3 separate regions of the Homo sapiens genome follow, and regions 1 and 2 are each linked to region 3. Evidence: fine-mapped expression QTL. A gene starts in region 3. Each other region holds a variant in brackets. All regions are shown on one strand. Distances are from middle to middle.

Region 1 (10,651 bases), 46 kb before region 3:
GGCAGATAGACTCCCTGCTCTCTGCCCTCTTGTCATTGTGAGCTCCCTGGCCCATCCCTAGGCTGCACTGCACTTCCCAGTCAGGGCAGTGCCTGGACCCTCCAAATACAGCTCCTGCCATGGCCTCTTCCGAATCCTAGGGGCAAACGGGGCATTGATGCACTTAGCTCAGCCCTCACACTCTCCTGCCACCGACCCTGAGAAGGGGCAGCTGGCACCAGAGAGTCTCTGAGCTGAACCTGGGCTCATTCTGCAAGATCCTTCCTAGGGAGACTGGCATGCAGGCAAGGGGATCAGCTCCTGAAGGCCCCCAGACTCCCATAGGAGGGGAGGGAACTCCAGGGATAGGCAGAGGGAAGGCTCCTGGGGGAGTCAGTTGCCCTCCAGAGCCCAGGCTTACGGGTGGGCTGAGCAGATGGAGCCACTGCCTGATGCTGTCTCCCCATGCCCTGACTCCAAGTGACCCCACTGGCTGCTGCCCCTGTGGCTCCAGCCATGGATGGGTCCCAGCCTTTGACTGGCTGCACTTCATTGTATTTGATGGTTACTTTTTGGAGTCAACTTGACTGGATTGAGGGACACCTAGATAGCTGGTAAAGCAGTGTCTTGTGAGGCTGCTTCCAGAGGAGACTGGCGTATGAGTTGGTAGGCTGAGTGGGGAAGACGCCCTGTCAATATGGGAGGGTACCATCCAATCAGCTGGGAGCCTCGGTAGGACAAAAAGGCAGAGGAAGGGCAAATTTGCTGTCTCTCTCCTGGAGCTGGGACAGCCTTCTTCTCCTGCCCTTGGACATCAGAAGTCTAAGGGTCTTGACCTTTAGATGCTGGGACTTGCACCAGCAGCCCCCCAGGTTCTCAGGCCTTCAGTCTCAGACTGAGTCACACCTTCAGCTCCCCTGGTTCAGAGGCTTTCAGATTTGAACTGAGCCATGCTCCCAGCAGCCCCAGGTCTCCAGGCGGCCTGTCGTAGGACTTCTCAGGCCTCCATAATCACGTGGAGCCAATTCACCTAATAAATCCCTTCTCATCTATCTGTCTGTCTCCTATCTCTATCTATCTATCTATCTATCTATCTATCTATCTATCTATCTATCTATCTATCTACCTACCTACCTACCTGCATGCTATAGGTTCTGTCTCTCTGGAGAACCCTAATACGGTTGGGATGCAAATTGGAAGGCACACCACCTGTTAAGTAGTCCTGCTGAAAGAATCAATCCTAAATCTTATCAAGACTTGAGATCCAGGCGGGGCGCAGTGGCTCAGGCCTGTAATCCCGGCACTTTGGGAGGCTGAGGCAGGCAGATCACTTGAGGTCAGGAGTTCAAGACCAGCCTGGACAACATGGTGAGACCCCGTCTCTACTAAAATACAAAAATTCGCTGGGCACGTTGGCTCATGCCTATAATCCCAGCACTTTGGGAGGTGGCTGGATCACCTGAGGTCAGGAGTTCGAGACCAGCCTGGCCTACTAAAAATACAAAAATTAGCCGGGCGTGGTGGTGTGCATTTGTAATCCCAGCTACTTGGGAGGCTGAGGCAGGAGAATTGCTTGAACCTGGAAGGCAGAGGTTGCAGTGAGCCAAGATGGTGCCATTGCACTCCAGCCTGGGTGACAAGAGCAAAGACTTCATCTCAAAAAAATAAAAAATAAAAATAAAAAAATTAGGGAGGGCGTGGTGGCTCACGCCTGTAATCCCAGCACTTTGGGAGGCCGAGGTGGGCAGATCATGAGGTCAGGAGTTCAAGACCAGCCTAGTCAACATGGTGAAACCCCGTCCCTACTAAAAATACAAAAATTAGCCAGGTGTGGTGGCGCACACCTGTAATCCCAGCTACTCGGGGGGCTGAGGCAGGATAATTGCTTGAACCCGGGAGGCAGGGGTTGCAGTGAGCCGAGATCGCACCATTGCACTCCATCTGTGGGCGACAGAGCAAGACTCCATCTCGAAAAAAATAATAATACAAAATTAGCCGGGCATGGTGGTGTGCGCCTGTGGTCCAGATGAGGCAGGAGAATAGCCTGAACCCAGGAGGTGGAGGCTGCAGTGAGTTGAGATTGTGCCACTGCACTCCAGTCTGGGGAACAGAGTGAGACCCTGTCTCAAAAAAAAAAAAAAAGAGTTCAGAACAGTGTGGATACTGTGCTGCCTTTTATATGAGAGCAGGAAAAAATATATATATTTGCTTTTGTTTATTTTGCATAAAGAAACACAAGAAACTAAGCCTGGTGGGAGAATGGGTGGGATGGGAAAGAGGACAGTGGAAAACAGAGGTGGATAGAAGCCTTTCGAATGTGTTCCTTTTCATACTTTTTGAATTTTTGAAATGTGATTGTATATAGATTCATTTTAATTTTAAATGTAATTAAAATTTAAAATTCATTACGGCACTACTCTCTCATCCTGTACTATGGGCTCTACCCTTTTTTGTTTGTTTGTTTTTGTTTTGTTTTGAAGAGACAGAGTCTCGCTGTTTTCCCCAGGCTGGTCTAGAACTCCTGGGCTCTAGCGCCCCGCCTGGGCCTCCCAGAATGCGGGACTACAGGCGCCGCCACCACCCGGCGTCTACTCTAAATGCATAGAGGCCAGGATGACCCAAGGTCACCAGCGGCCGATGCTGCCTGGCAGGGGCTTGAGGCCGGGAGGGGACCCTGCGGACAGGCGAGACCATGTGTGATCTGTGGGAAGCAACTAAACCGGCGTATTCGCGGCAGGGGAGCTCTGTGCCGTCCCGCGGCCCCACCCCGCTCTGCCATGGGAAGCCGTAGCTTGGCGCTGCCCACAGTGACGCGAGGGACTCCGAGGGCACCCGGGCCGGGGTGGACACGGGAGTGGGCCCGGGCGCGGCCGGCAGGGGGCAGCAGCGCCGCGCCGCCCGCGCAGTTCCACAGGTGCGCCGAGCCTGGGGCCATCGCCTCCCTCCGGCCGCCGTCCCCAGCGAATCGCCGCCTGCGTTCTGCCGTTTCCCCGCCACCGCAGCCACCCGGGGCCCGGGGGGCCGCAGCCATCCGCAAGCCGCGGGGCGGCGGGACCGGGCGGGCCGCTAGGGACGCCGGACGAAGGGAGCCCGCGGGCGGGGTCTGGGCGCCTACATCCTTGCTCCCAGGGAGGAAGGGACAGGAAACTGAAGCTGTTTCCGGGGCTGACCCCGGCCAGAGAGAGCAGGGCTCGGGAGAGTCGGCGCGTCCCGGAGGCGGCGCCCCCTGGAGGCCGGTGTGCTTTGGCTCTGCAGCGGGGGAGATTAGGGGTGGAGGCCGACCGATCCCACTCAGCCAGGACTGGCAGGCGCCGGGAGCTCACTGGGAGGCAAGTGCCGACCCCCGAAACCCACTCCAGACAAGCGAAGAAAACAGCTCTGTGTCCCAGGACGAGCACATACCTACTGTCACCCACTGTGCGACCTGGAAGAGTTACTGACCCTCTCTGGGCCTTAATCAGTCATCAGAAACACAAACGCGTAGATAAGATGGTCTTTAGGCCTCTCCCAGCTCTGCTATTCTGTGAATCTAAGAAACTCTAGTCCCTCCACCAGTCCCCACCCCGGGCTGGCTTCGCTTCAGGGAGGCCTGGCTGAGCTGGGGCCCTCATCCAAGGTCTTTGCACGGTTCCTCAGCAAAGGTGTTTTGGAAGGCTGGGTCCCACCCCTTCCCGGCGGAGGAAGAGGCTATTGGCTAAAAAGCCTGGACAAATTCAAAACCAGCAGCTCGGCCCCGGTTTTTTCGGAGCACAGCCAAACCCAAATCACACCTCTGCACCTACCTAGCTCCAGAGATCTAGACAGCATTTACAGCCCCCAAATGTTATTTTTACACCCTTTCCAGGCAGGGAAGGACAGAGGAGGGTAAGCTATTTTTAGGATGACTGCTATTTAAAGTAACATACTGGCCTGGCAAGGTGGCTCTGGCCTGTAATCCCAGTGCCTTGGGAGATACAGGCAGGAGAATCACGTGAGGCCATGAGTTCAATACTATCCTGGGCAACAAAAGGAGACCCCCATCTCTATTAAACAGCCGGGCGTGGTGGTGCGCGTCTGTCGTCCCAACTACTGGAGAGGCAGGCTGAGGCGGGAGGGTCCCTTGAGCCCAGGAGTTCAAGATTATAGTGAGCTATGATCACAGCACTGCCCTCCAGGCTGGGCAGTGAGACCCTGTCTCAAAACAATAAATTAAGTAACCTAGACTATGTATGTGAAAATAATATTTCCAACCCTAGCATGCTGACTTCATCTGAGCTTACAGATGCATTTTCATACAGTCCTCCCCAAGGGATCAGTTCCTGTGAGAGCCAAGGATGGCACCACTCATTGAAATCCTGACCATGGGAAGGCGTCATTTGGGATTCCGGAATGGGTGGCTGAAGCAGTTTACAGAATCGCGTTCTGGTGAGCTTTAAGAATGGAACAGGCGCCGGGTGCGGTGGCTCACGGCTGTAATCCCAGCACTTTGGGAGGCCGAGGCAGCCAGATCACTTGAGGTCAGGAGGTCGAGATCAGCCTGGCCAACATGGTGAAGCCCCGACTTTACTAAAAATACAAAAATTAGCCAGGTGTGATGGCGCGTGCCTGTAATCCCAGCTACTAGGGAGGCTGAGGCAGGAGAATCACTTGAACTGGGATGGTGGAGGTTGCAGTGAGCCGAGATCATGCTACTACACTCCAGCCTGGGCGACAGAGTGAGACTCAGTCTCAAAAAAAAAGAAAATAAAAAGAAACAGGGACATCTTCCTGAGGAAGTCTCGGGCTGCTCTTCCTGAAGGTGAGGCTGGTTGCATAGTCTTTCAAGGTCCCTCACAAGCTGAGGCTCCTGTAAGTTTTCTCTTTTCAGCTAGTCTTTTCAAACGAACACACCTCCACCTCGCTTTCCTCCTTCCAAATGAAGAGCTGATCTAGAGCAGGCGCAGATCCAGATTTTGGGGCAGTCCTGAGGTTTATACATATTTGAAGGGTCTTCTTAAGGAAAAAAGAATAAAATCTGACTAACACACATTTCCTCTGAAATGGCAGCTTCGGGAGCACTGCTAAGGTAGCCGAGCCCTCCATTCCAGTGGCCACTTCCAGTCTAACAATTCCACCGTTTTCTCTTCTTTTTTCAACTCTTTCCATTCCAGTGGCCACTTCCAGTCTAACAATTCCATCGTTTTCTCTTCTTTTTTCAACTCTTTCCATTCCAGTGGCCACTTCCAGTCTAACAATTCCATCGTTTTCTCTTCTTTTTTCAACTCTTTCCCTCTTCCTGCCCATTTTTTTTATTTGTTTTGTTTTGGATGCTTGTTTGTTTGTTTTTGAGACAGAGTCTCGCCCAGGCTGGAGTGCAGTGGCATGATCTTGGCTCACTGCAACCTCCGCCTCCTGTGTTTAAGCGATTCTCCTGCCTCAGCCTCTTGAGTAGCTGGGATTACAGGTGCCCACCACCATGTCTGGCTAATTTTTTTTATTTTTAGTAGGGACGGGGTTTCACCATGTTGGCCAGGCTGGTTTCGAACTCTTGACCTCAAGTGATCCACCCGCCTCAGCCTCTCAAAGTGCTAGGATTGCAGGGATGAGCTACCATGCCTGGCCATAATATTCCCATTTTAATATGCATAAATTGTATTTCTGTGTCTACACACACACACACACACACACACACACACTCCAGTAACAATGAGCACATCTAGTGCCTAGATCAGGGCTACTAAATATTATTCTCTACTGAAAGGAACAGAGCTCCCTGGAGAAATGGCTGAGCTCAGGCATGACACAGGGAAAGTACAAAATGAAGGTAGAACATTTTATTGCGTAAGGAAGAATGGCCAGATGCAGTGGTTCACACCTATAATCCCAGCACTTTGGGAGGCTGAGGTGGGCAGATTGCTTGAGCTCAGGAGTTTGAGACCAGCCTGGGCAACATGGCAAAACCCCATCTCTACAAAAAATACAAAAATTAGCCAGACGTGGTGGTACGTGCTTGTAGTCCCAACTACTAGGGAGGGTGAGGTAGGAGGATCTCTTGAGCCTGTGGGGTCAAGGCTGCAATAAGCTGTGATGGTGCCACTGTACTCCAGCCTGGGGGATGGAGCAAGACCCTGTCA[CA/C]AAAAAAAAAAAAAAAAGGAAAAAGTAAGAAAGTTCTCAATTATAGAACTTTATCAGCAGCCAACTTAACAGGGCTCCCATGGCCAGATCTGGAATAGTGTAAGCATCACAATAAATAGTGCTAGTAATGGATTATAGCTCATTGAATACAACCTGAATCCCTGAGTCGTACAGCTAGAAGGAAAAAAGGGGCCGGGCACAGTGGCTCACGCCTATAATCCCAGCACTTTGGGAGGCCGAGGCGTGCGGATCGCCTGAGGTCAGGAGTTCGAGACCAGCCTGGCCAACATGGTGAAACCCTATCTCTACCAAAAATACAAAAATTAGCTAGGCGTGGTGGTAGGCGCCTGAAGTCTCAGCTACTTGGGAGGCTGACGCAGGAGAATCACTTGAACCTGGGAGGTGGAGGTTGCAGTGAGCCGAGACTGCACCATTGCACTCTAGCTTGGGCAACAAGAGCAAAACTCTGTCTCAAAAAAAAAAAAAAGGAAAAAAGGAAGCTGGGAGGGAAGGAATTGTTCTTCCTTGCAGCAAAATGGCAACTAATATGGAAGAAATGGTAGAATTAGAAAATCACCATTTTGGCCAGGCACAGTGGATCACGCCTATAATCCCAATGCTTTGGGAGGCTGAGGTGAGAGGATTGCTTGAGCCCAGGTGTTTGAGCCATATTGGGCAACATAGTGAGACTTTGTTTGTATCAAAAAAAAAGTTTTAATTAGCTGGTTGCGGTGATGCATACCTGTAGTCCCAGCTACTTGAGACGCTGAGGCTGGAGGATTTCTTGAGCCCAACAGGTCAAAGCTGCAGTGAGTCGTGATCATACCACTGCACTCTAGCCTGGGTGACAGAGCGAGACCCAGAAAAAGAAAAAAAAAAAAAAAAAAAGAAGGAAGGAAGGAAAAAAAAATCACCATTTGATGGTTGTATTTTCCAAAATATTTTCCAACGACTTCTCTTATCCTATATATTCTTTTTTATAATGTGACTTTGACAATCTTCTATCAAAAGTTGGGATCTCTGTCTCCTCCGCTTAAAACCAGGAGGTGTTTTTTGTTACTGTTGGGACCAACGAAGTATGGCAGAAATAATGCCATGTGACTTCCAGAATCTTCCATTTATTCCGTGGAATACTTACCCCAGAAGTTGAGGCCAATGGGAAGAAGCCCAAACTAGCCATAGGAGAGCACCAGCTGAGCCCTGGGGCTGTGCAGAGAGGTGACCCCTGGCGGCCCGTCAGCTCCAGCTCTGCCTCCACTGTGACAAGGACCTCATGAGAGACCCAGAGCAGAACTGTCCAGCTGGGCTCTGCCCAAACCCCTGACCCACAGACACTGGGAGAGATCATAAATTTGTTTGTTTGTTTTGGGTTTGGTTTTGAAATGGAGTTTCACTCTTGTTGTCCAGGCTGGAGTGCAATGGCACCATCTCGGCTCACTGCAACCTCCGCCTCCCGGGTTCAAGCTATTCTCCTGCCTCAGCCTCCCAAGTAGCTAGGATTACAGGCGTGCGCCACCATGCCTGGCTAATCTTGTATTTTTAGTAGAGACGGGGTTTCCCCATGTTGGTCAGGCTGGTCTCAAACTTCTGACCTCAGGTGATCCGCCCGCCTCGGCCTCCCAAAGTGCTGGGATTAAAGATGTGAGCCACCACGCCTGGCCCCATAAATTTTTATTTTTGTTTCAAACCACTACGTTTTGGGATAATTTGCTACACAGCAATAAACGGAACAGCAACCATGATAGTAATAGCAGATTTAGACAAAAGTCCTCAGTGGATGCAAGCACTAATGGGTAAAGTTTTAAGGAGGAGTGAAGACTTTTACATAAAGTGTCTCCTCTCCAAATATGTGTTAATTACTAAGGGAAAAATGGTAACTTCGCAATGGCAAATTCTGGCAGAAATCAACTTAAGCGATCAAAGTCAGTATCATATTGAGACAAATTAACATTGTATGCATCAGTATGCTGGCAAATGTGTAACAGCTGGCTGGTGGGGACATGGATTTGTAACATTTGCTGATTTTTGTGGCACAAAAACTCCCACAAGCCTGGTGTCGTGGCTCATGCCTGTAATCCCAGCACTTTGGGAAGCCGAGGCGGGAGGATGGATTGAGGCCAGGAGTTTGAGACAGGCTAGACAGTATAGCATGATCCCATCTCTACAAAAAGTAAAAAGAAAGAAAACTTAGCCGAGGTGGCGGTGCACGCCTGTAGTCCCAACTACTTTGGATGCTGGGCAGGAGGATTGCTTGAGCCCAGGAGGTAGTGGCTACAATGAACAGCGATCCTGCCACTGCACTCTAGCCTAGGCAATGGAGTGAGACCCCTGTCTCAAAAAAAAAAAAAAAAAAATTCCCATCAAGACCAATTCCAGACTCCTAAAGGTTTAACAACAAGCTGGAAGTATAACACTTGGCCCCATTCATGTGCCCCTGGTGTGTACACTGAGAAGGACAAAGCCTCGCTGCCAAGGTGCTCCTCTCAAAAAGGTATCCCCTGAGCCTCTTCCTAGGGAAACATTAGATGAACCTGAAATGAGGGATAGTCTATGAAGTAACTGGCCTGTACTCTTCAAAAATGAGGTTCCAAAACACAAAGGAAGACTAAGAAGCTATTTCAGACTGAAAGAGACTAGAGAGTTGACAGCTAAATGTAACTTGTGATCCTGGATTGGGTTCTGGACCAAGAACAAAACAAAACAAAGCTCAGCAGGGCCAGAGCCAGATACTAGCGTCTTTTCAATGTTAATACTTTTCTGATTTGATTGGATGTACTGTGGCTCCATAGGAGAATGTCACTGTCTTTAGGAAATGTGCACTGGAGAATCTAGGAATAAAAGGCATAATATCTGCAACTTAGTCTCGAGTGGTTAAAAAAAATAGGATATATAGAGAGAGCAATTAGAAACAGAGAAAGAATGATATATGGAATCAAATGTTGTAAAATGTTAATAACTGGGGGAACCTGGGCAAAGAGAATGTTAGAGGTTTGTGTTGTTGTTGTTGTTATTTTTGTTTGTTTTTTTGAGACAGGGTCTCGCTTTATTGGCCAGGCTGGAGTGGAGTGGTGTGATCTCAGTTCACTACAACCTCCTCTTCCTGGGCTCAAGCAATCCTCCCACCTCAGCCTTCTGAATAGCTAGGACCACAGGCACACCCCACCATGCCCAGCTAATTTTTGTATTTTTAGTAGAGATGAGGTCTGGCCATGTTGCCCAAGCTGGTCTCAAACTCCTGGGCTCAAGCAATCCACTCGCCTCGGCCTCTCAAAGTGCTGGGATGACAGGCGTGACCCCCTGTGCCTGGCCTGGTAAGAGTTTTTTGTACTATTCTTGCAACTTTTTGAAATTATTTCAAAATGATCAGATAAATGCTCCATGGACATTTAGTTCAATAGGACTAGGCCTATGCAATGAGGAATAAAGTCAAGAAGGAAGAACTAACAAGCTTTGTAAGTTGAATTTAAAAGCTTAAAGACTGGATGTGGTGGCTAGTGCCTGTAATCCCAGGTATCCAGGAGGCTGAGGCAGGAGGATAACTTGAGGCCATAGTTTGAGATCAGTTGATCAGCCTGAGCAACATAGTGAGACACTGTCTCCAAAAAAAAAAAAAAAAAAAAAAAAGGCCGGGTGTGGCAGCTCACACCTGTAATCCCAGCACTTTGGGAGGCCGAGGCGGGCAGATCATGAGGTCAGGAGTTCAAGACCAGCCTAGCCAACACAGTGAAACCCCGTCTCTACTAAAAATACAAAAATTAGCCAGGCGTGATGGCAGGTGCCTGTAAACCCAGCTACTCGAGAGGCTGAGGCAGAAGAATTGCTTGAACCCGGGAGGCAGAGGTTGCAGTTAGCCAAGGTCGCGCCACTGCCCTCCAGCCTGGGCAACAGACACTCTGTCTCAAAAAAAAAAAAAAAAAAAAAAAAAGAAGGAAGAACTGGACACAAAGCACAAAGGCAAGACTATTGCTGGTTCATTTTGCCAAATCAGAGATCACAGCAAGTCCAGGCCAGAGGCTGTTTGCGTCTGCCTGTGTTGGAGGTCCCCTGCGCAGTTGGGACCTAAAAGATCTTCAGGGATTGGGTAAGGCACTGAATCACCTGCAGAGTTAGACAGGACCCTAGAGGTTGTCTTCTTCCATCCAGGCACAGCTTATGGTTGCTGTTTTTTCCCAGTTCCAGGAACCAAATGGTGATAAACTAGGAATGGAGAGAGGGCTTGCTGCTGTCTGAGAGCTCAGGTACAGGTCATGGAAGATGGATGAGAGGACATTCGCCTGGGGCTTTTGAGGAATTCTTTGATTCCCTGCCATCCTTGAGTTGGGTGAGGACAGAGGTGGCTTCTTGCATCCTTCTTCCAAGGCCAGGTGAGGAGCTGGACTCTGATCACATGAGGTCTTTTATTTGGGGCGGCTCTGCTCTACTCCCCTCTGCCTTGGCAGCTGGCTGAACAGACACAGTGACAGCCACTCATTCAATGCATTGTTTATTGAGTACTAACTAGCTTTGGGCCCAGGCTCTGGGTTAGCAGCATGCGTGAAACAATCAGAAACAATCATGAGCGCCTGCCCACATGGGGCAT
Region 2 (10,651 bases), 21 kb after region 3:
TGGGAGGCCCAGGCAGGAGGATCACGTGAGGACTGGAGTTTAAGACCAGGCTGGGCACCACAGGGAGACCACATCTCTACAAACAAATTAAAAAATTAGCCAGGCATGGTGGCACGCATCTATAGTCCCAGGTACTCCCAGCTACTCAGGAGGCTGAGGTGGGAGGATCCCTTGAGCCCAGGAGTTCAAGGCTGTGGGGAGCCATGATCGCACACTGCACTACAGCCTGGGTGACAGAGTGAGACCCCATCTCAAAAAAAAAAAAAAAAAAGGAAAGTGAGTAAAGAATATGCGATGCCAAGTGAGAAGTGACAGCTCATATTAACCCCCATCTGGAAGCTCTGCTCCATCTGATGCAGAGAGAATAGAAAGAAATCCGTCCCAGTGGATTGAAACAGCTCCTTTTTTTTTTTTTTTTTGAGAGGGAGTTTCACTCATTGCCCAGGCTGGAGTGCGATGGCGTGATCTTAGCTCACCGCAACCTCCGCCTCCCAGCTTTAAGCGATTCTCCTGCCTCAGCCTCCTAAGTAGCTGGGATTACAGGCATGCTCCACCACATCCAGCTAATTTTGTATTTTTAGTAGAGACGGGGTTTCTCCATGTTGGTCAGGCTGGTCTCAAACTCCCGACCTCAGGCGATCCGCCCCCCTTTGGCCTCCCAAAGTGCTGGAATTTCAGGTGTGAGCCACCACGCCCGGCCAGAAATAGCTCTTAAATCTATTTTATTGTTTATTAAAGCCATGGTTTGTGCTTTCCTGGTCTTCCCAGAGTTCTAGGCCCTGCCTTGGCTTCTCAGTTTGCTTCTCCCCAGCCCCTGAACCCAGCCTGGGGGACAGCCCTGGTTCTCTGGATGGATGGATGTCTGTCTGCTGATGAATGTGCAGTCACTGCCCACTGTGAGTTTTTTGCAGTGGTGATAGAAGGCTTGGAGGGGTGGGTACTTATCCCCAGTCAGTCATCAGAGAGCCCTTCAGGAGACGTCACTCATTTCTGTCTCATAATGAAACTGAAAGTTGAGACCTCTACGGAATAAAATAGGAAGGACAGAAAACTTCTGGTCCTGGGGCTGAGGTTGGGTGGTGGGGAGGGGGCAGGAAATTGGCTGCAGCCAAGACCCTTATTGTGCATGCCTTGAGAGGCCAAGCCCTGCAGTCAGCTGAGCTTGCTATTTTAGGTGAGGAGATCAGCCTTCAGAATCAGCTTATGAATCTTCAGACACCTGACGACAACCCAGAAAACAGGAGAGGAGGAGGGACTGGCCAGGGAGCCGGAGGCCTCCAAAGGGCCAAAGGAAAGGGCCCTTGTGGGCAAGAGCATAAACACCACCCAGAAGATGAGCGGGGATGACAGTTCAGGCCCCGCAAGAGGAATGTCCTCTGGTCAGAGTGTCAAGGCCGGTGGGTGCAGGGGCTTGGGGCCGAGTGGCAGCTTGCCCATCTGGTGGCTGCACCTGACAGGCACCGTTCACATGGACTGGGTTGGTGTGCACTGGGGCTGACCAGTGTCCTACAGAAAAGCTGAGAATGCTTTGGCAGCACTGAGACAACATTTAGGTTCGGCAATGACACAGATTCACAGATTTAAGCAAAAGCCTCCATTTTGTGGGCCATCAAACTGCCCATGGACAAGTTGTGTACCCACAAGAGACTGTTACCACCCCAACTTGCCTCTAGCCTTAGAGATGTTAGAGTAAAAAACAAAAATCAGTGGTCACATGTAAGCAATGTGTGTGTATGAAGTTAGCACAGGTGGCTACAGAGTGTATGGCAGAATATCAGGAATAGACCAATAGTCTGTGAATAAGAGGCCGGTTAAGTAAATTACGGTACCCATGTACCGAGTCCTATGTTTTATAAAGATAGATGAAGAACTTTTTCTATGCACTATAAAAAAACCTTCGCCGGGCACGGTGGCTCACACCTGTAATCCCAGCACTTTGGGAGGCCAAGGCGGGTGGATCACGAGGTCAGGAGTTCGAGACCAGCCTGGCCAACAGTGAAACCTCGTCTCTACTAAAAATATAAAAATTAGCCGGGCATGGTGACAGGCGCCTGTAGTCCCAGCTACTACTGGGGAGGCTGAGGCAAGAGAATTGCTTGAACCCAGGAGGCAGAGATTGCAGTGAGCTGAAATTGTGCCCCTGCACTCCAGCCTGGGCCACAGAGCAAGACTCTGTCTCCAAAAAAAAAAAAAAAAAAAAAAAGGCGGCCGGGCGCGGTGGCTCGTGCCTGTAATCCCAGCACTTTGGGAGGCCGAGGCGGGTGGATCACCTGAGGTCTGGAGTGCGAGACCAGCCTGAGCAACATGGTAAAACCCCATCTCTACTAAAAATACAAAAAAATAGCCAGGCGTGGTGGCAGACGCCTGTAACCCCAGCTACTTGGGAGGCTGAGGCAGGAGAATCACTTGAACCCTGGGGGGGCGGAGGTTACGGTGAGCCGAGATTGCGCCATTGCACTCCAGCCTGGGCAACAAGAGTGAAACTCCATCTCAAAAAAAAAAAAAAAAAAATAGTAGACACCGGGTTTCACCATGTTGGCCAGGCTGGTCTCCAACCCCTGACTTCAGGTAATCCACTCGCCTCAGCCTCCCAAAGTGCTGAATTACAGGTGTAAGCCACCGCGCCTGGCCTTAATTTTATTTATTCATTTATGTATTGTTTTTGTAGAGGTGGGATTTCACCATGTTACTGGTCTCGAACTCCTGGGCTCAAGCGATCCGCCTGCCTCTGCCTCCCAAACTGCTGGGATTACAGGCATGAGCCACCGCATCTAGGCTATTCATGGCTATGTTTTCAAAAAAGAAACTCTGGAAGGATACACAAGAGACTAATACAAGTGGCAAGCTGTTCAGATGGGTGAAGAATCAGGCAGAAAGGACAGGGAGTTGGAATAAGACTTCACTGTCATCACTTAGATGGTATTCTCATTTTTTTTTCAACCGTGTTACCTATTTGTGACAGGCAGAATATCTTCCTAAAGATCTCCGTGCCCTAATCCTGAAAATATGTTGTATTATATACAGCACAGAGAACTTTGTAGATCTAATTAAGGTCATGGACCTTTAAATGAGGAGATTAGCCGGAATTATCCAGGTGAACCCAATCTAATCCCATGATCCCTTAAAAGCACAGAGCTGTATATGGCTGGAGCCTGAGAGATTCAACATAAAAAGCCAGAGATTTGAAGGGTGGGAGGGACTCACGGCTGACAGAAAGCATGTCAGGGAGAGCAGGCACCCTCCAGGAGCAGAGACTTTTCCCCAGCTGACAGCCAGCAAGGAAAGAGGGGTCCCAGTCCCACAACCTCCAGGAGCTGACGTTAGCCCACAACCTGCATGAGTGTAGGAGAAGACTCCTCCAGAGCCTCCGGTCAGGAATGCAGCCCTGCCAGCACCTTGATCTCAGCCTGCAAGATCTTAAACAGAGAACTCAGCTGAGCCTCCCTGGACTTCTTATTTTTTAATTTAGAGACAGGGCCTTGCTCTGCCCCACCAGGCTGGAGTGCAATGGTGCAAACATTCATAGCTCACTGGAGCCTGGACCTCTCAGGCTGAAGGGATCCCCTCACCTCAGTCTCCCTCCTGAGCAGCTGGGACCACAGGCACGTGCCACCATGCCTGGCTAATTTTTGAAAAAATTTTTTGTAGAAATGAGGTCTCGCTATGTTGCCTAGGCTGATCTTGAACTCCTGGGCTCAAGCGATCCTCCTGCCTTGGCCTCCCAAAGTGCTGGGATTGCCGGCATGAGCCACTGCACCTGCTTTATTGTGATTTATTCTCTACAGTATTTTGTTAGAGTTTGGCTGGGTGTGGTGGCTAACACCTCTAATCCCAGCACTTTGGGAGGCGGGAGGATCACTTGAGCCCAGGAGGTCAACGCTACAGTGAGCTATGATTGTGCCACTGCACTCCAGCCTGGGCAACAGAGCAAGCCCTTGTCTCAAAGAAAGAATAAATCACACTGGATTAAAAAAAAATTTTCAAACATGAGTCAAGAAGCAGCCTGTGAAATATCAGGCTCAGCCCCAACTACATTTCAGGGCTAACTAGGCCCAGAGACCCACTGTTGGTGCTATTTCGTCAGCTCTTATCCAGGACCCTGATCCAGGCTCTCCTCAACATTCGCAAGAGAGTGTTTGAGAAAGAATGGTTAAAAGCAAGTGTTCAGTCGCACACACTCAGAGAGATGGCACAGTTTGTAATCCTAGCTCTGTGGGTCTCAGAGTATGGCCCCTGGCCAGACTCAGCAGCCTCACCTTCCCAGACCTCCCGACTCAGAAACTCCAGGGCGGGGACTCAGGAATCTGCTTTAACCACCCCTCCAGTGATCCTCGTGCATGGTCAAGTTTGAGAAGCATTGTATATCCTAGCTGAATCTTTCTTTAGGATGGATATCTTCCTTGAGGATGGATAATGCCATCTTTCTAGGATGAGTGATGGAGCTGCAGAGGCATTTCAGAAGGTCGGTCACTAGGTTTCAAGGGCTTAAGGTGACACAGAAACTGCAGTGTTGTAGAAGCAAACCAAGGACAACAGTGCACCCAGCTAGGTTAGATCAAAGTGGCGGGTAGCGAAGGGGAGTGGCAGCCTCCCTTTCACAGAAGGTTTGCTATCACACCCCACCCGCAGACAAAGCCCCCTGGGTATCACACTGAGGGGCCATGCACGGAAGGTGGGCACCATGCAATGAGGCAATCCACACCAGCCTCAAAGGTGCTACTCTCTGCTAGTCAAAGTCTACCTAGAAGACACTTCCAGACAAAGGCCAGCCTCAGTAACCAAGACGTGCCTGCAATGATTAACTGAACAGTTTTTTAAAACCTGGAAGGTGTTTGTGTGCTCAGATCACATCCTACGTGGTTGGGCAAAAGCTGGCAAAGTGTGACACATAGCTGACACTGGAAAACGGGAATCCAGGTGAAAAACAGTTTTCTAGGTGCAGGTAGGAGAAAGGGGGCAAACAAAATCTGACAGATACACGAGAGAGAACTCCAGGGTGTTGGCCAGGCGCAGTGGCTCACGCCTGTAATCCCAGCACTTTGGGAGGCTGAGGCGGGCAAATCATGAGGTCAGGAATTTGAGACCAGCCTGGCCTACATGGTGAAACTCTGTCTCTACTAAAAATACAAAAAAATTAGCTGGACATGGTGGCGGGCGCCTGTAATCCCAGCTACTTCAGAGGCTGAGGCAGGAGTATCGCTTGAACCTGGGAGGTGGAGGTTGCAGTGAACTGAGATCATGCCACCACACTCCAGCCCGGGCAACAGAGTGAGACTCTGTCTCAAAAGAAAAAAAAAAAAGAACTCCAGGGCATAAACTGCATGGGAGTCCCCTACCCTCTGCCCCTTGGGCCCAGGTCTCTCAATTCCATACACTCAGAGTTGGATCTCTTAAACAAACAGGCAATTGCCCAGATGGCCCGACCAGGCCTCCACTCATTGGTTTCTTTCTGGTCCTCTGACTGTTGTGCCTCGCCTGTCTTTCTCCCAGACGTTGTTGGAATTCCCACCTCCACATGCCCACCCCTAGATCCAGCTTCCTGGCTGGTGCCTGGGAGCGTGGCTTCTGCCCGCCCACTGGCCTGGCCTCAGAGGTCTGCCCTACCCTGACGCTAGCAACTGCTCAGACTAGGCAGCCCGTGGATGGAACTGCCTGATGCTGTCCTCCCATGCAAAGAGAATGGAGCCCTGGAAGAAGGCTCTCTGGAGTCACCCCAACAAAACACCATGTGAGCCTTGCACTTCCTTGCAGTGTGGCAGGGCACATCTCACATGGGTGCTTGCAGGGATGTGGAGGTGGGAATGTGAGAGGGTGGGGAGGGGTGTGGAGTGGCCAGGATCCAGGGGAGAATGCCCCACGGAGACAGAGACCCTTGGCTTGGTATGAAGGGAGCACAAGAAGGAGTAAATCCAGGACACGGCTAGACTGTGGCACCCCTGTGGGAGTGCCCGCACTTAGGGACACATGACCTTGGGGGAATTCTGGACAGCTTAGAGGCTTACTCCATGACAGAAGATACTTCCCTTCTGGAGACCTCAACTTCTCTCTGTGTTAGTTGGCTGAGGCTGCCATCACACAATATCACAATCTTGGTGACTCAAAAAACAGAAACTTAT[T/C]TCCTCACAGTTCCCTGGGCTGGAAGTCCAAGATCAAAGTGTTGACAAGCTTGGTTTCTTCTGAGGCCTCAGTGTGCCAACAAGGACCCTTGCTGTCTCTTCCCACTCCGAATTTCCTGTTCCTATAAGGACGCCAGTCAGATTAGATTAGGCCCACCCTAAGGGCCTCCTTTTAATTTAATCACCTCTTTAAAGGTCCTATCTCCAAGTACAGTCACCTTTTGAGGTACTGAGCATTAAGGCTTCAACACACGAGTTTTGGGCCAGGAGTGGTGGCTCACAACTATAACCCCAACACATTGGGAGGCTGAGATGGGAGGATCCCTTGAGCCCAGGAGGTCGAGGCTCAGTGAGCTATGATCGTGTCACTGCACTCCAGCCTGGGCAACAGAGCAAGACTCTGTCTCAAAACAAAACAAAACAAAACAAAACAAACCCATGAATTTTGGGGGAGACACCACTCAGCCAGCAACACTGTAAGTATGGAATACTAATACCAACCTATTTCACTAGTTGAGGGAAGTGATTTCAGAAGAGGGGGCTGAGATTTGTCATAATCAGCAGACCAAGTTTAGATGTAAGTACCTCCTGCAAAATTTCAGAAAGATCTGTCTTGTCCTTTGTCAACAGAAAAAATCACTCCTTCATGCAAGCATTTATTGAGTGCCTCTCTGTGCCAAGTTGGCTCACTGCAATGCAGATATTATCTGATCTAATCAAGGGGTATTTATTGAGTGGCGTTGGAGGTTAAAGGAGTATCAAACAAACTTGATCCCAGTCCTGAAGGAGCTTGTAATTCTTGCTGGAAAGGCAAGACCAACTCATAGGAAACAACAGGAACAGCAGCAGGTGATATACAACTGAGTTCTAAATTGTGTGGTGCAGACTTCAATTGCTGCTGGAATTGGGAATGAGGAAGATCAATGAGGGAGCGGGTCAGCACCAGCTAAATCACTTAGACTGAGGCATTCATCAGCCTGAGCCATTGTTCACGCTGCAGACTTTCTGTTCAAAATGGTAAAAGCCAGTCCGAGGCTGGGCACGGTGGCTCACGCCTGTAATCCCAACATTTTGGGAGGCCGAGGCGGGCGGATCACATGAGGTTGGGAGTTCGAGACCAGCCTGACCAACATGGAGAAACCCTGTCTCTACTAAAAATACAAAATTAGCCGGGCGTGGTGACGCGTGCCTGTAATCCCAGCTACTCAGGAAGGCTGAGGAAGGAAAATCTCTTGAACCCAGGAGGCAGAGGTTGCAATGAGCTGAGATCACGCCATTGCACTCTAGCATGGTCAACAAGAGCTAAACTCCGTCTCAAAAAAAAAAAAAAAAAAAAGCCAGTCCAAAAGCCTCAGTCACAGGGATGACTCAGGACCTTGAGTTTCATTTCATGTTTCTAATGTCATGAGACAACCGTGGGCCTCGCCCTGCTCAGCAGAGTCCTACCCCCCACTTTCTCCACACAGCTTCCCCTACTCAGGGTACATGAAAAAGGGGTTCCCCACCACAACTCTATGGCCACACCCCAGGGGGCAAGTTCAACCAACAGGCCAGGCGAATGAGCCCCATCTGTGCCCCATTCCCACCTGATCGGACCCCACAGCCCTTTGGGAGCACTCAGATACTGGTGAGAATGCCCCTGTTTGCTTGGGGGGCCCGTGGCTACTTATTGACGGCACAGGGCATCTGTTGAGAAGATGCAGGCAGGGGAGGGAAGGAGAGAAAGACAAGAGGAGCCTATGCAATTGGCGAGAGACACAGAGGACAGAGAACATGGGGAACTGAGGACTAGAACGGATTTCTGGCCTGACCCGTTCTGGGGGACTCCTTTTAGACCAGGGGTCTGTGTTGGCCCGTGAGTGCAGCTGGGCTCTCTCCACCTCTTTTCAGCCTCCTCTGCCACTCTGAAAGGCCCCAGGTTTTATTCCCGGTTCACATTGCCGCACCCATAACCCAGGGAATGTGGCAGCCCCTGCTGGGGTTTCACAGGCGTGCAGAGGGTGCCTCTGGGTAGGGCTTCATTCCTCTATGGGCAGGAGTCCCTGGGCACTGACCACGCCCTAGTGACAGCCAGAGTGCCTTCATTCCAAGTGCTATATTAGCAGTATCTTAAAAACCTGTCTGAGCCGGGCGCGGTGGCTCACACCTGTAATCCCAGCACTTTGGGAGGCTGAGGTGGGCGGATCACGAGGTCAGGAGATCGAGACCATCCTGGCTAACACGGTGAAACCCCATCTCTACTAAAAGTGCAAAAAATTAGCTGGGCGTGGTGGCAGGCGCCTGTAGTCCCAGCTACTTGGGAGGCTGAGGCAGGAGAATGGCGTGAACCCGGGAGGCGGAGCTTGCAGTGAGCCGAGATCGCGCCACTTCACTCCAGCCTGGGCAACAGAGCAAGACTCCGTCTCAACAAAAAAAAAAACCTGTCTGAAACAAGTACGTGAGAATTCACTTCTTCTTCTTTTTTTTTTTTTTGAGATGGAGTTTCGCTCTTGTTGCCCAGGCTGGAGTGCAATGGCACGATCTCAGCTCAACACAACCTCTGACACCCAGGTTCAAGTGATTCTCCTGCCTCAGCCTCCTGACTAGCTGGGATTATAGGTATGCATCACCATGCTGGGCTAATTTTGTACTTTTAGTAGAGACGGGGTTTCTCCATGTTAGTCAGGCTGTTCTTGAACTCCCACCTTCAGATGATCCACCCGCCTTGGCCTCCCAAAGTGCTGGGATTACAGGCGTGGCTACCTCGCCCAGCCGAGAATTCACTTTTGCTGAGAAAGTAATGGAGGTCCCACGGCCATTTTAGGAGCAACATTTGTTGGGGTGGAGTGGAGATCGGTAGTGCAAAATTGACCCTCCTAGATTACCCAAGAAAAATGAGCCCAAATCTGAACTTCTGAAGACACAACTTGAATTCACCACCTTTTTAAAATCTTTTTTTTTTTTGAGACAGAGTCTAGCTCTGTCGCCCAGACTGGAGTGCAGTGGCGCGACCTCGGCTCACTGCAAGCTCCACCTCATTTAGTTCAGGTACTAAACGGGTCACTGGGCTTAGTGGCAAGAGTTCCTAATGAGAAATACTACTTGAGGACTTACATTGTGCCAGATGCTTTACATGTGTGGCATCATTTAATCTTCCAGATATTATAACCATTGTCATTGTAGAGATGAGAAAACTGAGTCCTGAAAAGCTGACTAGTCTGGGGACATCACTTGTTCAAGGTCACATGGCTAGTCGTTGAGGAAAGCAGAATTGAACTCAGGTGACTCCATGGCCCATGTATGAACCACTGGGCCACACTCCCTCACTTATAAGCTGATGTTGTCAGTTCTCACTATCAGCAGGGTTGGTGCCTCTACAAAACCACAATCAGGAAGGGAGAAAGGCCTTAGGAATAATATTCTAGGCCTTCGACTACAAACTACAGCCTGCAGGACAAATTTTTTTCAACTTTATTGAGGCATTTTTTTTTTTTTTTGAGATGGAGTCTCGCTCTGTCGCCCAGGCTGGAGTGCAGTGGCGCGATCTTGGCTCACTGCAACCTCCGCCTCCCAGGTTCAAGCAATTCTCCTGCCTCAGCCTCCCGAGTAGCTGGGACTACAGGCACGCACCACCACACCCGGCTAATTTTTGTATTTTTAGTAGAGATGGGGTTTCACCATTTTGGTCAGGCTGGTCTCGAACTCCTGACCTTGTGATCCGCCTGCCTCGGCCTCCCAAAGTGCTGGGATTATAGGCATGAGCCACCGCGCCTGGCTGAGGCATATTTTATATATATAATTCATCCCTTTCAAGTGTACAATTCAATAATTTTAGTCAATTTACCAAACTGCACAGCCATTACCTTAATACATTTTAGAACATTACCAGTAAGACCATACTTTCAGGGATATCACTTCTAGAGTTTATTATAGAACACTGTCAGTATCCCAAAAGGATCCCTCATGCACACCTACCTGGAGGTCAAAATAGAACCTTCAGATGTTGTGCTTGGTCCACCATATTTAGAATATTCTTTTGATGGCTGGGAGGAGTGGCTCAAATCTGTAATCCCAGCACTTTGGGAGGCCGAAGCAGGCGGATCACATGAGGTCGGGAGTTCGAGACCAGCCTGACCAACGTGGTGAAACCCCATCTCTACTAAAAATACAAAAATTAGCCAGGTGTGGTGGCACATGTCTGTAATCCCAGCTACTCTGGAGGCTGAGGCAGGAGAATCACTTGAACCCGGGAGGCTGAGATTACAGTGAGCCGAGATCACGCCACTGCACTCCAGCCTGGGTGACACAGCAAAACCCCGTCTCAAAATAAAATAAAATATTATTTTGAATTTTTTGCTAGCTTTAAAAAAAGGAGACAACATCACATAGTATTAAAATTTTTAAATTCTCCTAGAAAAAAAAATCAGAATATTGGGCAAAAGGGGACTCTTCTTCATACAAGGCAAAACCAGTAGCTGCCCCCTTTAGACAGAGCTGGTGCTCTCGGGTCCACTCCATAAAATCAGTAAGAGGGTGCAAGTGGGGTCCCCAGAACC
Region 3 (10,651 bases):
CAGACTTCCTCCTCAGCCACTGGCCACTGAGACAGCACAGCCTGGGTGGCAGAACAGCCACCTAAGGCAAGAATGGAAGGAAACACTTTGTTCCTTTCTGAGCCCATTCCCCAAAACCCTCCTTCCAGGTACTCCTAATGGGTATTGCCATGGCAGACATTGCTAATGGATCACAGCATTCTTTGAAATGGAGCCCAGATATAGCCTGCCTGTCAATCCTCAGCTGGGGGCTCCTAGCAGCCTCTTGTATTTATTCAGAGTTGACACATCACACGGAGCCTGTCTGGCATTCCTACCCTAAGGACACCTCAGGGGTGACAGGACCAGGGCAGAGCCCCAGTACAAACAGACATGGGTGCAGTCAAATGGGAGGGCCCAGGCATCCGTCTTGGAGGGCTGGGATTTTGTAGGGCCTGTGTGTCCTGGTTGAGGATCAAACCGCATATGCTATTGGGAGAAACAATCTCTGTGGACATACATACTGAAAGAATAACAAAGGCAGAAGAGAAAAACAAAGTGTGGAATTTGGGGTTCTCCTGTGTAAATTACACAAGAAAGCAGAAGCCAGTTATTTAAAAAAGAAAGAAAATGTGGCATATATACACAATGGAATACTACTCAGCCATTAAAAAATGAAATCACGGGCTGGGCACGGTGGCTTACGCCTGTAATCCCAGCACTTTGGGAGGCCGAGGCAGGAGGCAGGTGGATCACGAGGTCAGGGGTTTGAGACCAGCCTGACCAACATGGTGAAACCCCGTCTCTACTAAAAATACAAAAATTAGCTGAGCGTGGTGGCGGATGCCTGTAATCCCAGCTACTCAGGAGGCTGAGGCAGGAGAATTGCTTGAACCCAGGAGGCGGAGGTTGCAGTGAGCCGAGATCATGCCATTGCACTCCAGCCTGGGCGACAGAGCAAGACTCCGTCTCAAAAAAAAAAAAAGAAAAAAGAAATCACGTCATTTGCACCAACATGCACGGAACTAGAAGACATAATGTTAAATGAAATAAGCCAGACACAGAAGGACAAACACCGTATGTTCCCACTCATGTGTGAGAGCTAAGGAAGTTGATCTCATAGATATAGAGAATAGAAAGATAGACACCAGAGACTATGAAGGGTTGGGGTAGACATGGGGGATGAAGAGAAGTTGGTTATGGGTACAAATAGACAAGCACTTCAAGAGGCTGAGGCAGGAGAATCACTTGAGCCTAGAAGTTGAAGACTGGCCTGGGCAACAAAGCGAGACCCCCATCTCTACAAAAAATTTAAAAATTATCGGCAGGCAGATCACGAGGTCAGGAGTTCGAGACCAGCCTGACCAACATGGTGAAACCCCATCTCTACTAAAAATACAAAAATTAGTCAGGCGTGGTGGCGTGCACCTGTAATCCCAACTACACAGGAGGCTGAGGCAGGAGAATCGCTTGAACCTGAGAGGCGGAGGTTGCAGTGAGCCGATATCGCACCACTGCACTCCAGCCTGGGGAAGAAGCAAGACTTCATCTCAAAATAAATAAATAAATATAATAATAAAAATTATCCATGTGTAGTGGTACACACCTGTACTCCCAGCTACTCAGCAGGCTGAGGTGGGAGGATCACTTGAGTCTGGGAGGTCAAGGCTGCAGTGAGCCATGATGGTGCCATTGCACTCCTGCCTGGGTGACAGAGTGAAACCCTATCTGCCCCACTCCCAGGAAAAAAAAAAACCTACAGTTAGATAGAAGAAATAAGTTCTAATGTTTCATAGTAGACTAGGGTGACTATACTTAGCAATAATATTATGTATATTTCAGAGTAACTAAGACCGGGCATGGTGGCTCATGCCTGTAATCCCAGCACTTAGGGAGGCCGAGGCAGGTGGATCACAAGGTCAGGAGTTCAAGACCAGCCTGGCCAACATGGCAAAACCCTGTCTCTACTAAAAATACAAAAACTAGCCATGTGGCGTGTGCCTGTAATCCCAGCTACTTGGGAGGCTGAGGCAGGAAACTTGCTTGAACCCAGAGGGCAGAGGTTGCAGTGAGCCGAGTTCGTGCCACTGCACTCCAGCCCGGCAACAGAGCAAGACTCCACCTCAAAAAAAAAAAAAACACACACACACACACACATATATATAGAGAGAGAGACTCAAATAAAATGGATTAAAGTTAAAATAAATAAATAAATAACAAATATAACCAGAGCACAAGATCATAAGACATGCTTCAAACTGAGAAAGAAACCAAAACAAAACACACAGAGATAAGGAACTGAGAGGAAACAAAGCAACACAGGAAATAAAAGAAAAACCTGAAAGAACTGTAATTAACATCCTTAAAGACATAAAACATTGTGTGTGTAAAACAGGAACAGGAGGTGATTAAAAAAATGAGAATTAGAAAGAACTTTCAGAAATTAAAAACAGCAAAGCCGAATGTTTAAAAATTTACTAGCAATATTAAAAATGAAGTTAAAGAAAATATTTTTAAAAGTAAAGCAAAATAGGAGAAAAGAAAATGAGATGATTATTGGTTGAAGAAATCCAACACCCAAATAACAGACATTTCAGAAGGAAAAAGAAAAAAAAAACAGGTGAAGGAAATAAGCCAATAAGGAATACAAGAAATTGCCCCAGAACTGACAGTCTTTAGATTGAGTACCTTGCACAGCACAGTCAATCATTCTGTGGCCACACCAAGGTACAGCATCTTGGTATTTCAGAGCATTAGCATTAGAAAGGATTATCAAAACTTGCAGAGAGCAGCCAGTTCAGGGTGGCAACGAGCAGGGACTGAAGGAAGGAAATGTATTCAGCATCTCCTCACACAAGGCTCTATGCTGCTCCTTTACCTGGGTTATCTATTTGAATTACATTTAAGAAGGGGCAGTGGCTCATGCCTATAATCCCAGCACTTTGGGAGGCTGAGGTGGGCAGATCACTGGTGCCCAGGAGTTCGATACCAGCCTGGGCAACATAGCAAAACCAAAATACAAAAATTAGCCAGGCGTGGTGTATTGAACCTGTAGTCCCAGCTATTCATGAGGCTGAGGCATGAGAAGTTCTTGAACCTGGGAGGCGGAGGTTTCAGTGAGCCTAGATTGCACCACTGCACTCCAGCCTGGGTGACAGAGCAAGACTCTGTCTCAAAAATAAATACGTAAATAAAATTTTTAAAATGAAAATAAAACGATTGTTTCTCTACACTTGAAAGTATGATACAGCATACTGGAACATGTCAAGACTGTAAATTAGGAGACCTTAGGAACAGCCTCAAATTAGTATCATTCTAACTGTGCAACCTTGGGCAAATCACTAACGTCTCCAGATCTCAGTGTCCTCACCTACAAAAAAGGTAACTTGGACAAGATCAGTGGTTTTCCAAGTGCAGCATGAATATCATCAGTGGCATAAATACAATCTTAGGTGGCTCACAAATGGATAGGGGTTATGTTGACAGATAGGTAATTTTAAAACATGTATTAGCACATCAAACCCATGATATCGTAACTATTATTGTTTTTGTTGAAAAATTTTTAAGTTAAAGAAAAATATTAAGTAAATAGAGGTGCAAGGATATGACAAAAATGGAAAGTTTGCTACTCATTAAATCATTTTAATATCCAAGATTCTTCCCAGCTCAGTTATTCTGTAGTACATCAGATAGCAAAGAAAATTTTAAGAAGGAACTAGTATCAGCAATATGCAGTTATGGCAGAAGCTGTACCCCCAAAATCAGAGTGCTGGACGTCAGCAGAACCCCTTTAACTTCATTAAGTCCTTGACTCTCTTTTTTGACCACGGTGTTTGCCTGCTACTAAAATCTCTAGGGCAGGAGCACGGTGACTTCTATGTCACCATCCCACCTACCCCATGCCACATTCTCCATCAACAGCCCCGCCCCTTGTCCCTGTCTCCCTGGTGACACATAACAAAGGCCATCAAGCTCCCAAATCTTCAACTCCATCCTCTCCAAGAAGGACCCCAAAAGCATTTGTGTCCCAGCAACTGTGAACTTTTCCAGGCTGCCAGACAGAAGTTTATCTAATGGTGGTCAAGACCTGCCTGGTTGAATACTAGTAAAAACAATCCTTATTCACAATTTATTGCTATATCTACTTCATCTTCTCTCCTCCACAAGATTTTCCTTTTACTTTTAAAAGAGGATGCATGAAAACTTCATAAAGTAGTTTGCTTCCAGACTAAGAAGAAAGGAGGCTGGGTGTGGTGGCTCTGCCTGTGATCCCAGCCCTTTGGAAGGCCGAGGCAGGCAGATCACCTGACGTCAGTCGTTCAAGACCAGCCTGGCCAACACGGTGAAACCCCGTCTCTACTAAAAATACAAAAATTAGCCGGGCGTGGTGGTGGGTGCCTGTAATCACAGCTATTAGGGAGGCTGAGGCACAAGAATGGCTTGAACTCGAGAGGCAGAAGTTGCAGAGAGCCGAGATCGTGCCACCACACTCCAGCCTGGTGACAGTGGAGTAGGCCACATGCATCTGTGGTCCTGAGTAAATGCCCTTGGGCCCATTTTCAAAAGCCTGTTGGGAGAAAGCCTGTTACTCCTCCACTGAGAGTCTCAGACCCAGCTCAGATGGAGACAGGGAGAGGTGCAGGTGGATCAAGCCCAAGCTCCGGACTTCCCAGCTACCTCCTGAACCTCATCATCCCACAGCTCCCAAAGGACCCCAGTTACCTCGGAACAGCTCCAGAAACTGAGGGCTGTTTGCTCAGCGCCCCAGCATCTGTGCAGAGCACCGGAAAAGCTCACCAACTGTTTCACTTCCTGTTGGGGTAGGTTTTATTTCCCTCCAGTGTGCACCAGGGATCCAACTAGAGGCCGGGGAGAGGGGCTCTGCAGTGCTGAGGCAGCCAGAGTGGCAAGTGTGTGGCTTACATGCATGCTTGCTGTGTGCATCTGAGTTTGATGTGGGGGGCTTGTGCGCATGTTCATGTGGGTGTTTGTGTGTTCGTGTGTGTTTCGGTTTATGTGCATGTGGGGTTTGTTTTTTTTTTTTTTTTTTTTTTTTTGTAGACAGAGTTTCACTCTTGTTGCCCAAGCTGGAGTGCAATGGCGCAATCTCAGCTCACTGCAGCCTCCGCCTCCCGGGTTCAAGCAGTTCTCCTGCCTCAGCCTCCCGAGTAGCTGGGATTGCAGGCGTGCGCCACCATGCCCCACTGATTTTTTGTATTTTTAGTAGAAATGGGGTTTCACCATGTTGGTCAGGCTGCTCTCGAACTCCTGACCTCAGGTGATCCGCCCACCTCGGCCTCCCAAAGTGCTGGAATTACAGGCGTGAGCCACCATGCCCGGCCGCATGTGGGTTTATTTGTGTTGGAGGGAGGGTGTGTGTGTGTTTGTGTGTACTGTGTCTTTGAAAGGTCCACAGCATGTTGGTTTTGGAAACAAGCACCGCAAAGAGGCACTCCAAAATCTGTTCATGAACTCTGGGAAGTTCTCCTTCCTCAAAATGTGATTGTGGACTGTGGGGCAACCCATTAGACAGAGAGTAAAAAGTAGCTATAATAAAATATATGTTTTAGGGGGGAAATCAGGGATGCGGGGACAGGACAGTAGAGGGGGCAGGAGGTAGGAGACAAGAGCTGGGGTGTGAAGAGGACCAGCAAGAACAACGCTCCAAGGGACAAGTGGAGCAGACAAGGCTCCTGTACCCAGGACGGTCAGAGTCAGACCTCGCTTTGTAGCTGGCCTTAGCACTGTAGCAGTGGGGCCTCGACCAAGTTGTTTCAACTCTCTATACTTCAGTTTCCTCATCTGAAAATGTGGATAATAAAAGCACCCACCACAGAGGGTCCATTGTCAGAATTAAAGGAAAAACACATGCAAAGTACCTGCCACATAGAAAGCTCTTGATAAATATTAGCCATGACTATTCTTAGAAGTAACTATTGGGATGCCTCATCCAAGCCAATTAGAAATGCAGACATGGGAGGCTACACCAGGGACCTCCATGTCACATGCATGGTCTAAAGACTCGATTGCACCCCACTCCTCCCCAGTCCCACTCAAATCTACCCCCAAGACCCCAAATCTACCCCCAAAAGCCCACGGCAGTTTCAGTTCTGCAGCTCCCATACATCTGGAGCCTTGATGCTCCTTTTTGTCATTTTCTCCAAAAAGTACCAAGGTCATTCATTTAATAAACAGGAAGAAATCCCAAAGTGAAAACACAGAGGGGTCAGGGATTCCCTCATCAAGAGTTCAAGACTAGGCTGGGCTCAGTGGTGCATGCCTGTAATCCCAGCACTTTGGGAGGCCGAGGCAGGTGGATCACAATGGAAGGGGTTCGAGACCAGCCCCTACTAAAATACAAAAATTAGGTGTGGTGGTGCGCACCTGTAATCCCAGCTACTTGGGAGGCTGAGGCAGGAGAATTGCTTGAACCCTGGAGGTGGAGGTTGCAGTGAGCTGAGATTGCACCATTGCACTCCAGTCTGGATGACAGAGTGAGATTTTGTCTCAAAAAAAAAAAAAAGAGTTTAACACTAATTTTTTGAAAGTTAGAGGAAGCAGAATGCACCGCAAGTAATAAGGAGAAACAAGATTGATTCCAGCGCCGCACAAAGGGAAACCACCAATTCTGAAAGTAAATCATGTGAAGGGTTTTTTGTGGGTTTTTTTTATACTTTAAGTTCTAGGGTACATGTGCACAATGTGCAGGTTTGATACATAGGTATACCTGTGCCATGTTGGTTTGCTGCACCCATCAACACATCATTTACATTAGGTATTTCTCCTAATGCTATCCCTCCCCCAGCCCCGACCCCCCCGACAGGCCCTGGTGTGTGATGTTCCCCTTGAAGGGTTTTTTTAAAGACCAGGTCAAAGCTAAAGATCAAGCTTTTCTTTCCAAACGCTTTAGCTAAAAGTAGGAGCTAATTTTCACATCTCCGAAGGTGGCTCCAGGACTCCAAGTCACACCTTGGCAAGGGTGTGGCAGCTGGCAGAGGACTGCAGGTCCTTGTCAGGCAGAACCTGCCGGGTTCTGGGGAGTGGAGACTCAGATCTTGAGGTGGAAGCAGAGACAAGAGCTGGGCACACTTACCTGGATGTGGGGTTGGGAGCGGTGAATCAGAGCCCAGTTAGATCCTGGAGGCTGGCAGCAGGCTCTGCAGAGGTGCAGGGGCACCTCATTCAGAAGGGGCCATTTATTGGCCCTCTGTGGCTAAAACCAGCTCCAAGCAGGACTTTTTATGGCTGGAGTCGCCTCCAAAGGGGCGTCGGCCTCCACTCAGGTGTGACTCTGAGCGTTGCCTAGCTGAAAAGGCGTGATGATAGGGAGCACACGTGAGGCCATTCGGGAAGAATATTTTGCCAAGTGCAGAGGCCGTAAAAACGTGGAACATGGCTCTGTTTTTTATGCTCTATTGAAAATGATCATCAGAAGCAGAAACTGGGCTTGTGTTCAGAACCTGAAAATCTGCAGGGCAGAAAAACAGGACAAAGGCATCTTTTAGTGACTGCAAAACTAAACCTCAACAGAAAGATGCCTGAAGAGACAGGTGGATTATGACCTCAGAATTGGAGACAGGAGAGGTTTTCAGAATTAAAGATCATCTATGGCTACACAAACATTTGAGAGGTATTTTCATTAAAACATCCCTTTCTTCACACCAATATCATGAATTATATGCTATGCACAACCTATAACAGAGTATAGCAGAGTTACCAGTGGTTTAAAGTGCTGCATATATGATTGTTATATGAGGTAAATAAGATTCTCTGACCCAGAGTTAAGAAAATGGAAATAATAATTGCTAAGGCATATTAAGAATTATATATGTATGTGTGTGTGTATATATATATATATATATATATATATATATATATATATATATATATAACATTTAATCCCTACAGCAATACATACCTATAAATGAGTATATACAAATATGTGTGTGTATGTGTGTGTGTGTATATATACTCATTTAATCCTTGCAGCAATCTTATAAGGTAGGGACTATTGCAATCCCCACTTGAGAGAGGCGTACCCTGAAGCACCTGGCAGTAAGGTAACTTGCCCAAGGTCACACAGCTAGTAACAAGCATAGCACGGCCTTGCAGGCCCAGGTGGGTTCCACCACACCGCTTTCCCTGGCAGCAAGAAAATGGAAGGTTTTTGAAGTAGTGGGGGAGTCACCGGGCACAAGGAAGCAGATCCCTGGAGGAACACACAATTAGCAAAAGTGGAGCCCAGGAATAGACGTTACCAGGCATAAGTGATTTTTCCAGACACTGGGAACTTGTGTTTTGAAACACCAAAGTATTTTTAGGAAGCAGAAAAGTTAGCTCTTTCATTGAACTGCTATGTGGTTTTGAAGAAAATGTCCTAATATCCATAAAACTCAAAGCTTTAATCTGCAAGAAGGAAAAAATGTCATGTGCCTCCTACTAAGTTTTTTTTTTCTAAGTAAGTTTTTTGTGTGTGTGTATGTATGAAATAATATATGTGAAAATTTTTTTTTGAGACAGAGTCTCGCTGTGTCACCTAGGCTGGAGTGCAGTGGCACAATCTTGGCTGTCTGCAGCCTCTGCCTCCCAGTCTCAAGCAATTCTCTGCCTCAGCCTCCCGAGTATCCAGGATTACAGGCACCTGCCACCATGCCTGGCTAATTTTTTTTTTGTATTTTTAGTAGAGACGGGGTTTCACCATCTTGGCCAGGCTGGTCTTGAACTCCTGACCTCGTGATCCACCTGCCTCAGTCTTCCAAGTGCTGGCATTACAGGCGTGAGCCACTGTGCCTGGCTGAAAATATTTTTAAAACTATAAAGCAACTATACAATTACACAGCATAAATGATTTTCATTTTTCTTTTTTTTTGAGAAGGAGTTTCACTCTTATTGCCCAGGCTGGAGTGCAGTGGCATGATCTCGGCTCACCACCACCTCCGCCTCCCGGGTTCAAGTGATTCTCCTGCCTCAGCCTCCCGAGTACCTGGGATTACAGGCATGTGCCACCACGCCTGGCTAATTTTTGTTTGTTTGTTTGTTTTGTTTTGTTTTGTTTAGTAGAGACGGGGTTTCTCCATGTTGGTCAGGCTGGTCTCCAACTCCCAACCTTAGGTGATCTGCCCGCCTCGGCCTCCCAAAGTGCTGGGATTACAGGTGTAAGCCACCGTGCCCAGCCCAGCATAAGTAATTTTCCTTGCACAAATCTTTCTAGTATTTTTTCTGGCTTCTTAGGGTGCAGTGAACATAATTTGATCTTTTTTGAGGACTTGGTATCATTATTATGAGCATTTATCATAATACTTTCTATTGCTATTGCATTATCACTCTATTTCCAATGCCAGTGAGGTGTGGAGCTTTGTTTGCCCCTGTCCTAAATGGCTTCAGACTGCTCTGCTTGTATGTATTTTTATATAATTTTTCTGTCCCTTCCTATGCAGTTCACTTGTCATTCTGGGTAGGTCTAAATTCCAGCAATCCTCTCCCTCTAATGCTTTACTTCTTGTGGTCTAGGGACTGAAGAACAAGATACTCCAACAGTACCAGTGAGAGCCCCTTCAATTGCTCTATGAGTTGGGGCATATTCACAAGTGCATGGATGGATTCTCAATTAGAGATTGCAGGCTGAACACATGAATTAACCTTAGTTCCTCTCCAAAACCTGCACTAAAATGACAGTGGGGAAAAAAATTAAGCATATATTCACAAGGTTGAAGAAAGCAAGAAAGGAGAAAATAGCAAAAAAAAACTTGGAAGATGGAAGGTACATAAACAAGTGCTAATAATTTAGAAGACAAAAAAACAAACAAACAAACAAAAAAAACAAACACTGAATCTGAAACCAGCAGTGACGAAAGAAACCTCGGATACCTGTGAAAGTGAGGCTGAAGGTAAGTCCAAAGCAGGAGAAATGGAGGAATGGCTGGAAAGCCTTTTTAACAAAAACCTAGAGCCACAGACATTCCTCCCACTCCCTCTTCAGCAGAGCAGTGAAGATTTGTTTTCAGGGAAAGGTAAAACAGAGTTTCTGGCCTAGTTAAGGATGGGGTTATCATACTAAAAATGAAGACTTTTTTTAAATTTTGCATATTGAACACTGAGTCTTCCAAGCCTTTCTCCCCTATTAGTCTCCCAAACATCAGCAACTTATATCCACAGTCAAGAAGAGGGAAAAGCCTTCTCTAGGGCTTTATCCAGCCTCACTGGAAAGACCTAATGATATTTAAAGGGATGTACCAGGTCACGATCTAGTAAAACTCATGGCAACATAGCTTCCTCCCTCCCTGCCCTTCCCACATACAAAGAGCTTATAACATCCTTTTAGTACCCTACTCTTAAATATAAGTAGACAGCCAAGAGTTACTACCTTTGAGAAATACTATTTTATGACAGAGAAAGAGCATCTCAGAAGAAAAAGAATAAGAGGGAGAAGAAAACTTTATCTAAGATTATTAGCCTTAGAGATATAAAAGATGTTATGCCCACAAAACAACAACAGGATTCTATAGAAAAGGAATAGGCAAAGAATGAAAAAGATGCTCTGGGGCCAGGCGCGGTGGCTCACACCTGTAATCCCAGCACTTTGGGAGGCTGAGGCGGGTGGATCACAGGGTCAGGAGATCAAGACCATCCTGGCTAACACGGTGAAACCCCGTCTCTACTAAAAACACAAAAAATTAGCCAGGCGTGGTGGCGG

What was found. PIP is the estimated chance that this variant, and not a neighbour inherited with it, causes the effect.
Region 1: its variant is fine-mapped to the expression of ADA2 in whole blood (INTERVAL, PIP 0.99).
Region 2: its variant is fine-mapped to the expression of ADA2 in whole blood (TOPMed, PIP above 0.99). The same link has a PIP of 0.9 or more in blood mononuclear cells and monocytes.

What each region holds. Positions count from the first base shown.
Region 1 is chr22:17,168,764-17,179,414 of GRCh38, forward strand. ADA2 (adenosine deaminase 2) reads right to left here. Exons shown (of 10, transcript NM_001282225.2): 10 at 10,027-10,651. Among named protein-coding and RNA genes, the nearest start is that of HDHD5-AS1, 15 kb to the left of the region's middle. RefSeq lists an enhancer at 2,402-2,903 and a silencer at 2,754-3,183. The variant CA/C (reference allele first, on the strand shown) is at 6,072.
Region 2 is chr22:17,236,154-17,246,804 of GRCh38, forward strand. No RefSeq gene overlaps it. Among named protein-coding and RNA genes, the nearest start is that of ADA2, 22 kb to the left of the region's middle. RefSeq lists enhancers at 1-103, 1,231-1,280, 1,351-1,440, 7,336-7,395, 7,416-7,675. The variant T/C (reference allele first, on the strand shown) is at 6,117.
Region 3 is chr22:17,214,676-17,225,326 of GRCh38, forward strand. ADA2 (adenosine deaminase 2) reads right to left here and starts at 4,760. Exons shown (of 10, transcript NM_001282225.2): 1 at 4,681-4,760. It also overlaps the pseudogene FAM32BP. RefSeq lists enhancers at 4,137-4,497, 4,338-4,407, 4,418-4,547.